2 separate regions of the Homo sapiens genome follow, and region 1 is reported to be linked to region 2. The links are microRNA targets in miRTarBase. Many come from high-throughput screens and were not tested one by one. Region 2 holds a microRNA gene; the other region holds the end of a gene's coding sequence.

Evidence for each region. Region 2 holds the annotated microRNA hsa-miR-762 (GGGGCUGGGGCCGGGGCCGAGC, at 1,684-1,705, opposite strand). A microRNA usually pairs through its seed, bases 2 to 8, with sites in the 3' UTR of a target mRNA and lowers its output. Matches are read on the target gene's strand: a 7mer-m8 pairs with bases 2 to 8, a 7mer-A1 pairs with bases 2 to 7 and ends in A, and an 8mer does both.
Region 1: the mRNA of MYL12A is a reported target of hsa-miR-762. Seed matches in the 3' UTR shown: 7mer-m8 at 4,148-4,154.

The regions. Positions count from the first base shown.
Region 1 is chr18:3,255,223-3,260,280 of GRCh38, reverse strand. It overlaps MYL12A (myosin light chain 12A), which reads right to left. Exons shown (of 4, transcript NM_006471.4): 4 at 4,045-4,535. The coding sequence ends at 4,363. MYL12-AS1 (MYL12A and MYL12B antisense RNA 1) reads left to right here. Exons shown (of 4, transcript NR_130145.1): 3 at 3,959-4,039; 4 at 4,443-4,845. Among named protein-coding and RNA genes, the nearest start is that of MYL12B, 4.4 kb to the left of the region's middle.
Region 2 is chr16:30,890,585-30,895,655 of GRCh38, reverse strand. MIR762 (microRNA 762) reads right to left here and starts at 1,753; the gene lies at 1,671-1,753. It overlaps BCL7C (BAF chromatin remodeling complex subunit BCL7C), which reads left to right and starts at 1,579. Exons shown (of 6, transcript NM_004765.4): 1 at 1,579-1,803; 2 at 2,366-2,444; 3 at 2,708-2,816; 4 at 2,909-3,070. The coding sequence starts at 1,712. It overlaps MIR762HG (MIR762 host gene), which reads right to left. Exons shown (of 3, transcript NR_110942.1): 3 at 436-1,108. RefSeq lists enhancers at 1-378, 2,122-2,451, 1,990-2,622 and a silencer at 1,262-1,741.

The DNA of each region.
Region 1 (5,058 bases), not on the chromosome of region 2:
AGGATGGTCTCAATCTCTTGTCCTCATGATCCGCCCACCTGGGCCTCCAAAAGTGCTGGGATTACAGGCGTGAGCCACCGCGCCTGGCTAGTATTAGACACATTTTAAGTGCTCAATAGCCACATGTGGTTAGTGTCCTTATTGTATGGCACAGAGAGCATTTCCTTAATTACAGAAGCTTCTATTTGACAGCACTATTCTGAAGAAATAATTCTAAGGTATATTGTTCTCTCTAGATGCAAAAGAAAAGCCTATAATAGGCTTTGTTTAATCATGAATAAAAATTTATTCACTAATAAAAATAGCTGGATAGCTAAATATCTATCATTGGGAAATTGTTAATTATAGCATGCCCACATCAAAGATAACTGAAGTTAAGAATGGTTGAAAAAGAAATATACTCAAAACAATGGTGGCTATGCCAAAACATGAGATATAATTTAAGTAGTAAACGAAAAAACAAGTTGTAAACTCATTACAACTCTAAAATGTGTGTGGATAAATACTGGAGAAAAGTCACATTTCCTGCTATTTGAGCAGACACAGAGAAATCTAGACTAAAAAGATATAGGGACTTGGAAGATGGAAGAGCAAGTGGAAATGACTCGAATAAGCAGCAATGGGAAAACTGGGCATTTCTTCAATGTGGGATTAGCTACTACAATCCCTTTATGGACAGAAAAAATAAACTGTACCCGTGAAGAGGACCTAATTCGACACACACAAGTCTGGCATATTGGACCTGCTCAGGAAATCGAAAGTGAACTATTTCAGAATCCACTAGTACCAAACTGACAGGCATTTGTATGCATAGTCTTATAAAATCTTCCTAACAACCTGTTAATGAAATTCTACCTTGAAATCCATCCACTTTTCTAAGGGCAATCCTACGTGGTCTAGGTTCTGTCACATCCTAGCTCTTAGACATGATCCATTTTGTTTCACTAATTGTTCCCCCCTAGTTTGTTGTCTTCTACTCTGCCTATAAACAGGCTTGAATTTGAAGATATGCCCTTTGCCCCTTCTCACTGGCCCACTCGTAAACAAAATAACTACTATTTGGAGACCTAATGTGTCCCAGACCATTTGTCTTTCATGCTTCTAATTTTCAGAAGAAACTTGGATGGTATTGGCCATTTTACAGATGAGGAAACTGGCAATTAAGAACACAAAGTCAAATAGGCAGGTGCAATTCACTTAAGTATGGCTCCAAATCCGTGCTGCTCTTAATCACACAAATGCTGCTTTATATATTATGTTCCTAATATGAACCAACAGTATTATTTCCGTTTTATAAATGAATAAATAGGCCAAGGAAGTTTAAATAACTGACTTAAGGTTATAGAGCCATGACGTAGCAACAAACGGGAATTAAGTGTAGGTCTGCCTGACCCCACACCTAGGCATTATTCACTATCCTGTGCTGCATTATGGATTCTGCACTCAGAACTCTAATAACTCTAGCAAACATGACTAACGACTTGTCACATCTGGGAGGGTCTCATTTAAACCTTCCCATACTCCACTTTTCTGTGTTGGACACTGCCAACCTCCTTACTCTTGAAATTAACTAGGTTTCCGTAAGACTGTTTTTGTGGCTCTATTTACCTCTCCAAACTCTGATCATTTTTTATCTGATCCTCAAGTCTAGGTGTTAAGCCTCTTGCTGTCCTTCCTCTTTTCACTTTGTAGCAAATGGTTTCCTTTCCTTCTCAATTTGCTGTTACTTGTCTCTTATGCTCAGGCCTTCCTCCTTTCTTTCCCAGGAGCATTCAATTCCTGCTCTCATCAAGTTATAGATTCTTTCATCAAGTAAAATTTGGGGCCTGGAATCAAAATGACCATATCATCATATGCAGGTGGATAAGGATGCCACCCCCATTAGGCTGGTTTTGTCCGATTTTTGTTTTCTTTTTCAAGACAGGGTCTCGCTGTCACCCCAGGCTGGAGTACAGTGGCACAGTCAGCTCACTCCAGCCTCAAACTCCTGGGCTCAAGCAATCCTTCCACCTTAGCTTCCAGAGTAGCTGGGACTATAGGCACCCACCACCATGTCCGGCTAATTTTTAATTTTTATGTAGAGATGGGGTTTTGCTTTGTTGCCCAGGCTGATGTCAATCTTCTGGCTTCAAGCAGTCTTCCTACTTCGACCTTCCAAAGTGCTGGGATTACAGATGTGCGCCAACGTGCCTAGCCAGATCTTTTGAAATGGTTTAAGTATGACTTTCATCATGGAAACTTTTGAGACTGATTTTTCAGTCAAACACACCATTGAAATGGATGCTTTTACCTTTCTGTTGGCAATCACTCTTGTTTAAGCAAAGAATGCTATTACTAAATTAGGAGAATTATTTCATTCAGGGTACATCATTGTTCTTAATGCAAGTTGGTTCATTAAGCACTTATCTGAAAGGGAAACAGGGGCCCTGCAAGAGATCCTTTTAGTAGTACCTTGTTTTTCATATAGTGCAAACAATGCTATCTGTTCTTCACTAGAGATGTAACAAAGCATATGATAATTTTTTCTCTTGACATGGAAATTCAATTCAAAAAACAAGATTTTAGCACCATGGCCATAGCCTGGAAAAAGTATTTTGGCTTAACCAGTGAATAAAATTCAGAAACAAAAGACAAAGAATGAAGGCAGGTTCTAAGATTCTAATGCTGAAGAGGTCAAGGACTAGCTTTGACTAGTCCTTCTATTCCTATAGCACTGGCCTTCCCACGTTACAGGATCTAGCTGATCTATCTTATTGGCTGCAAAGGCCTGCTGCCCAGAAGGCTTTTAGTAATTGTTTACTGAATGAGGTAATGGTTTTGTCCAAGGAGAGTCATGTTAATCGTAGCATAAAACTTAAAGTTATTATAGTAATTGTCAATTACTCATCTTCATAGGCTAATTGTCAAATCTTTTCAACCAAATTTTTCTCCATTTCAAATCTTTTAAAACTCATGCTCTTTGAGAGTCAGAGTTTTGGGCTGGGCATGGTTGCTCACACCTGTAATCCCAGCACTTTAGGAGGCAGAGGTGGGAAGATCACTTGAGTACAGGAGTTTTAGACCAGCCTAGGCAACATAATGAGACCTTGTCTCTACAACAAATTAAGAAATTAGCCAGGCATGGTGGTGCCTGCCTGTAGTCCCAACTACTCAGGTGGCTGTGGATCACTTGAGCCCAGGAGGTCAAGGCTGCAGTGAGCTGTGATCGTGCCATTGCACTCCAGCCTGGGTGATAGAGCGAGAGACCCTGTCTGGAAAAAAAAGAGAATCTTGAAGCCCTTTGAGAGTCAGATTTTTAAAGCTGAAAAAGAACGAAACTGTCTGCCACTCCCTGATTAACTGTGAAACAGTTCTGCATTTCTGCAAATAGTAGAAGTTATTTTTAGGACTGAAATAATGACCTCACTTTCCCAGGCATGCAGGTTCAGCTGTTTTGATTGTGGGAAGGTCAGGAATGTCCAAAACTCAAACATGGACTCATGGTGAATCTCTGCATAAACAAATATCTTTCAATACACATTGCTGTGTTAAAGAAAAACTACATATAATAAAAAAAATACTGCATTATATTTCCAGCACTTTAAAACATAACATAAAAATCTCTCTTTGGTAGCATTCCACAGAACCTTTAAGCCAAAATGGTTTTTAAAAATATGACAAATTGAAATTATACTCAGTAACCTGGTCTAATTTTAAATGACCAGAAATTACAAAAGTTTAAATAAAGTGGAAATGTTGGCAGGTATGTCAACTTAAGGACTTAAAGCTATGGAAACTATCATATATGCAAATTCTACAGGAAATTATTTTAAAAATTGGAAGACAAAGTGCAGAAAACCTGATTAGGGCAGTTAAAATTGGATATCCTTGGGAGGAGGAGGAGGAATGGATAGTAGAGGAGATAGGATTGTTAGGAAAACTGGAGGAAGAGAAAGCTAACAACCATATCATTTTCTAGGATTTCCCTCATCTACCTTTCTTTGGGAGATACGACTGAAACCAACAAAAGCCAAGTTTGGTAAATAAGAAGTTTAAACAAGTAAGTATTTTATCATAAAGTTTAATTATGATTCAGAAAAAATCGAGCGAATAACTTTCTCTGAAAAAATATATTGACTCTGTATAGACCACAGTTATTGGGGGAGAAGGGCTGGTAGGTTAAATTATCCTATTTTTTATTCTGAAAATGATATTAATAGAAAGTCCCGTTTCCAGTCTGATTATAAAGATACATATGCCCAAAATGGCTGAGAATAAATACAACAGGAAATGCAAAAGCTGTAAAGCTAAGGGCATGCAAGAGAAAATCTCAGAATACCCAAAGTGGCAACAAGGAACGTTTGGCTGGAATTTGAAGTTATTTCAGTCATCTTTGTCTTTGGCTCCATGTTTCAGGATGCGTGTGAACTCGATGTAATTGAAATTCCCCTTTTTATCAATAGGTGCTTCTCTGTACAGCTCATCCACTTCCTCATCTGTAAACCGATCCCCCATGGTTGTCAGCAGCTCTCTCAAGTAATCTTCCTGTATGGTGCCTGGAGAATAAAGAACAAGGGATCAGAATACATACTATTCTGAGGGTTAATTACAAAGAATATCTATACTTGACTAAGCATGTTCTGTATGTTACAAACTATAAACATGCAAATATATGAACTACAGGGTGTCCACCTACTTAAAACAGCCTCAGCAGAGAAGTGCCTAGAAAAATGCCTAGCTGCTTAGCAGCACTGCTCCGCTCTATCATTTGCTCTATCATTCTGCCTCCACATTCAGCTTCTGATCTCTTGATAAGAGAGACTAAACCTATGCCTAAACAAAGTAATAAAAAGTATGGTTAAAGAATCTAAGCCTTACGGTTCCTTCAAGTGGCATGAATGGTCACATCTTATTCTACAAACAAGTAACATTTACCTGCCAGGCTAAAATCAACACTACATCATACACATCAATAAAGTGGTACAGTGGAAAGAATACCGGAAGCTTGAGGCCCAGTTTTAAGAAGCTATTTTATTTCAGGCATTTCACTTCATCCCTGACTTTGGTTTTCTCAGATGT
Region 2 (5,071 bases):
AAAGAGTTTAACTGGAGAGGGCACAGCAGATAGAATTGAGCCAGACAATTGGTAGGGCCCACAATCACATGTGTATTAACTGTAAATATTTATTGGGCATTTACCATGTGCTGGGCACTGTTCTAAGAGCCATATGCACATTAACTAACTCCTGTGTTATAGATGCGGAATAGAGAGAAGTGACTTGTCCAGGGTAACACAGTTAGGTGTGGCACAACTGGGATTTTACCTAAGCAGCTTGGCTCAAAAAAATGCTGTCTTAACCATGCTCCTAACCCCTTATACCCTTAACCTCTGGACATGGTCACGCCCAAATTCACAGACACAACAGCCACACCTTGAAACACACACACACACACAACAGCAGCACAAATTTTGACATGGTCTTATCTGCTGACAAGCCAGCCTCAAATAAAGTCAACAAAGACACACTCATTTTATTTAAGTAATGTACATTTTATTTAAGTCATGTGATGGATTTTCACAGAATACATATGCCCAGGGAACCAGCACCAGATTACACAACAGAACTGGATCAGCTCCCAGAAGCTCTCCCCTCGTCCCCTCCCAACCCTAAGGGCGATCACTATCTTGACTTTGGTGCACTATAAATTAGTTTTGTCTGGTTCTGAACGTAATACACCTGGAACCATCTAGTATGTACTGTTGCATTTGGCTTCTGTCACTCAAGATTTCATCATGCGACTTGTCTATGTTGCTGTGTGTAGCCGGGCATGTCAATCCCGTTGCTGTGTCTATGTGCATGGTAGTGAGTAGGGCATCATTCATTTTCCATTCTGTTGATGGGTTATTTCCAGTTTGGGGCTGTTATGAAAGGGCTCTGAACATTCCCATGCACCCTCTTGATGCTCACACCTACACATTTCTGCTGGGTGTTGACAGCCTAGGAGTGGAACTGCTGGATCACAGAGGTGGCATATGTTCGGCTTCATTAGAAAACTGCCAGTTTTCCAAAATGTCTCTACCAATTTACACTCCCCCAGAAATACAAGAGAGGTCCAGTCGCTCTACTTTCTCGCCTCCACACGGTGCGGTCTTTTTCACTTTAGCCATTCTGGTGGTGGAGACCCACTCGTATTCGCAGCGCCTGGAGCGTAATTGGCACTCAGTTAACAAGACTGTTGAATGAATGGATGACTGAGTAAGTTGGGCGGTGTAGACCAACAGCCTGGCGAGGGCGGACACACGCACGCACTCCACACACAGCGTTTCGCGGACACCCACCGCGGCTCACGCAGCGCAGGACACAGACCCTGTCGCGCACCCCGCGCCCACGTGGTCTGAACACACGGCCTCGGCCCTGCCTCGCGCGTCCGGTCGCAACTCCCGCTCTCCGTCCCCAACTCGCGCGTCCGTCCCCAACTCCCGCTCTCGGCGGCGGGCAGGGGGCGCTGAGCGTCCAGGCGCTCCAAGGGGGCGGGCCCGGGTCGGGGCGGGGCCGGCCGGGCTTCCAGGCCTGGGCTCTGGCCGCCCGCGCCACCGGGCCGCTCCGGGGACAGGCCGGGGCGGGGCGCGGCGGCAGGAAACGGGGCGGGGACTTGCGGAGGCGTTGGGGACGAGAGAGGGCGCGGCCAACTCCAGGGGGGACGGCAGGCCGAGAGCGCGGCGCCCGGGCCTGGCGCGGAGCCTGAGCCCGCCGGACGGGAGGCGGCCCCGCCGCGGGCTCGGCCCCGGCCCCAGCCCCGCCAGCATGGCCGGCCGGACTGTACGGGCCGAGACCCGGAGCCGGGCCAAGGATGACATCAAGAAGGTGATGGCGACCATCGAGAAGGTCCGGAGATGGTGAGCGCTGCTCGGGGGCCAGGGACGGGACACAGCGGGACCACCAGCACCAAAGGCGTCTACGCTGCCCTCGCCAGCTCTGGGCCCCGGGTGTTCGGTGTATCTCCACCCACTAGCTTTGCCCTGGATCCACAGGGCTCTGTCCCCGTTCGCCTGGCTACTCCTGGGGGTCTACAAAGCGTGATCCCCAGCCGTGTCCTCCCAGAGCGGGAGCCCCCTCTTGTGCCCCGCCCCCTAAAGCTTTGACACCCCTCCTGCAGGTGCGCCCCAGGATCTGCAGGGCTCTGATCCCGGGCCAGGCCCATAGCCACGCCCCCCATGTGTGCCCCAGGGGTCCGCAGAGCCAGGGCCCCAAATCATATCCTCTCTCTAGAGGCACCCACCGCCTATGCCCTGGGGTTTGCAGGACTCTCTTCCTCCATGTAACTATGCCCCATTAGCAAAACTGTTGCTATCCTCCTGTGCCTCCTCAACCTCTGCAGGTACCCCCAGATGTGTCCAGCTCCTAGGGGGGTGGGTCTCCCCTCAGGCCTCTCTGACCCAGCCCCCCACCCTCCCACAGGGAGAAGCGATGGGTGACTGTGGGCGACACTTCCCTTCGTATCTTCAAGTGGGTGCCAGTGGTGGATCCCCAGGAGGAGGTGAGCAACCCCCATTCCCACAAGGCCCTGCATCTGTGCAACCTCAGGCAAGTTCCTCCCCACGCTGACCTCTACCTCCAGCTCCCCGAGACCTCAGATGCAGCAGGACAGACGGGAACCATCATTAGCAGCTCCTCCCCTTTTGCCCTCTTTTCTGCTCCACACCCCCTGAGTTTGAGCCCTTTTGCTTCTCAGTGCCTCAGTTTCCTTAGGTGTATGGTGGGGCTTTCCAAGAGCTCTGACCCTAATCCTCTAACCCCCAGGAGCGAAGGCGGGCAGGTGGCGGGGCAGAGAGATCCCGTGGCCGGGAACGTCGGGGCAGGGGCGCCAGTCCCCGAGGGGGTGGCCCTCTCATCCTGCTGGATCTTAATGGTAGGTAGGGATCCTGAAACGCGGGGGGCTGTGGGGACTGAAGGAGTGTACTAGGGATCTCAGGCCAACCATCTCGGCTCTTGCTCCCGCAGATGAGAACAGCAACCAGAGTTTCCATTCGGAAGGTTCCCTGCAAAAGGGCACAGAGCCCAGTCCTGGGGGCACCCCCCAGCCCAGCCGCCCTGTGTCACCTGCCGGACCCCCAGAAGGGGTCCCTGAGGAGGCTCAGCCCCCACGGCTGGGCCAAGAGAGAGGTAGGACCAGGTACCTCCCAGGAGCTCTCTCCTCTAAGTCCTGTCTTCTCCAGAGTCTAACCTACCAGCTCATCCCTATACCTGCTCCCCGTCTTGTGCACCCTCCTCAAGGCGCCTTCCGACTCCTGCAGAATCTCCCTGTAGCTACAGTCTCATTCCTCTGGTCTCTTAGAATCTATACAGACATATCACTGTCTGAGATTTTCATGTAAATTAATTTTTTACTAGTTTATCTTTCTCCTCACTCTCATGTCAGTTTCCTGAATGTTGGGCCCATATTGATCCTTTTTTTTTTTTTTTTTTTTTTTTTTTTTTGAGAAAGGGTCTCGCTCTGTCACCCAGGCTGGAGTAGTATAGTGGTGTGATCATAGCTCACTGCAGCCTTGAACTTCCTGGGCTCAAGCGATCCTCCCGCCTCAGCCTCCCAAGTAGCTGGGACCACAGGCATATGCCACCACACCTGGCTAATTTTTGTATTTTTTGTAGAGATAAGGTTTCACCATGTTGCCCAGGCTGGTCTCAAACTCACTTGCTCAAGCAGTCCTCCACCTTCAGCCTCCCAAAGTGCTGGGATTACGGGTGTGAGCCATCACACCCACACCCGGCCCTCCCCCCCCTTTTTTTTAGAGACAAGGTCTCTGTCACCCACGCTGGAGTACTCTGGTGCAATCATAGCTCACTGCAGCCTCAAACTCCTGGGCTCAAGGGATCCTCTGGCCCCAGCCTCCCAAATAGCTGGGACTCAGGTGTGTGCCACCATGCCCAGCCAATTCTTAAATTTTTTGTAGAGGTAGGGTCTCGCTATGTTGCCAAGGTTGGTTTTGAACTCGTGGCCTGAAATGATCCTCCTGTCTCAGCCTCCCAAGGTGCTGGGATTATAGGCGTGAGTCACTGTGCCTGGCCCTATGTGATCTTGTTCACTACTGTATCCTCAGAATAATATGGGACACATAGTAGGTGCTCAGTAAATATCTGTTGAGTGAATAAATAATAGTGATAGTCATAGGGGTGATTAACAATAATAGGAATAACAACAGCTAGTATTTATTGAGCTCTTACTGTGTGCTAGGTGCCCTGGTAAACACTTTACGTGGTTGGGTTTTTTTCTTTTCTCTTTTTCTTTTCTTTGAGAGAGTTTCGCTCTTGCCAAGGCTGGAGTGCGACGGCACAATCTTGGCTCACTGCAACCTTCACCTCCTGGGTTCAGGCAATTCTCCTGCCTCAGCCTCCTGGGTAGCTGGGAATATAGGCATGAACCACCATGCTCGGCTGGTTTTGTATTTTTAGTAGAGTTGGGGTTTCGCCATGTTGGCCAGGCTGGTCTCAAACGCCTGACCTCAGGTGATCTGCCCGCCTTGGCCTCCCAAAGTGCTGGGATTACGAGCCACCACGCCCAGCCTTTTTTTTTTTTTTTTTTGAGATGAAGTCTTGCTCTGTTGCCCAGGCTGGAGAGCAGTGGTACGATCTTGGCTCACTGCAAACTCTGCCTCCCAGGTTCAAGCGATTCTTCTGCCTCAGCCTCCCATGTAGCTGGGATTACAGGCATGCCACCATGCCCGGCTGATTTTTGTTTTTTTTGTTTATTTGTTTGTTTGTTTTTGAGACAGAGTTTCATTCTTGTTGCCCAGACTAGAGTGCAATGGCACAATCTCAGCTCACCGCAACCTCTGCCTCCCGGGTTCAAGCGATTCTCCCGCCTCAGCCTCTCGAGTAGCTGGGATTATAGGCATGCACCACCATGCCCCGCTAATTTTGTATTTTTAGTAGAGACGAGGTTTCTCCATGTTGGCCAGGCTGGTCTCGAACTCCCGACTTCAGGTGATCCGCCTGCCTCAGCCTCCCAAAGTGCTGGGATTACAGGCGTGAGCCACCGTGCCTGGCCTAATTTTTGTATTTTTAGTAAAGATGGAGTTTCACCATGTTGGCCTGGCTAGTCTCGTACCCCTGACCTCAGGTGATCCGCCCGCCTCGGCCTCCCAAAGTGCTAGGATTACAGGTGTG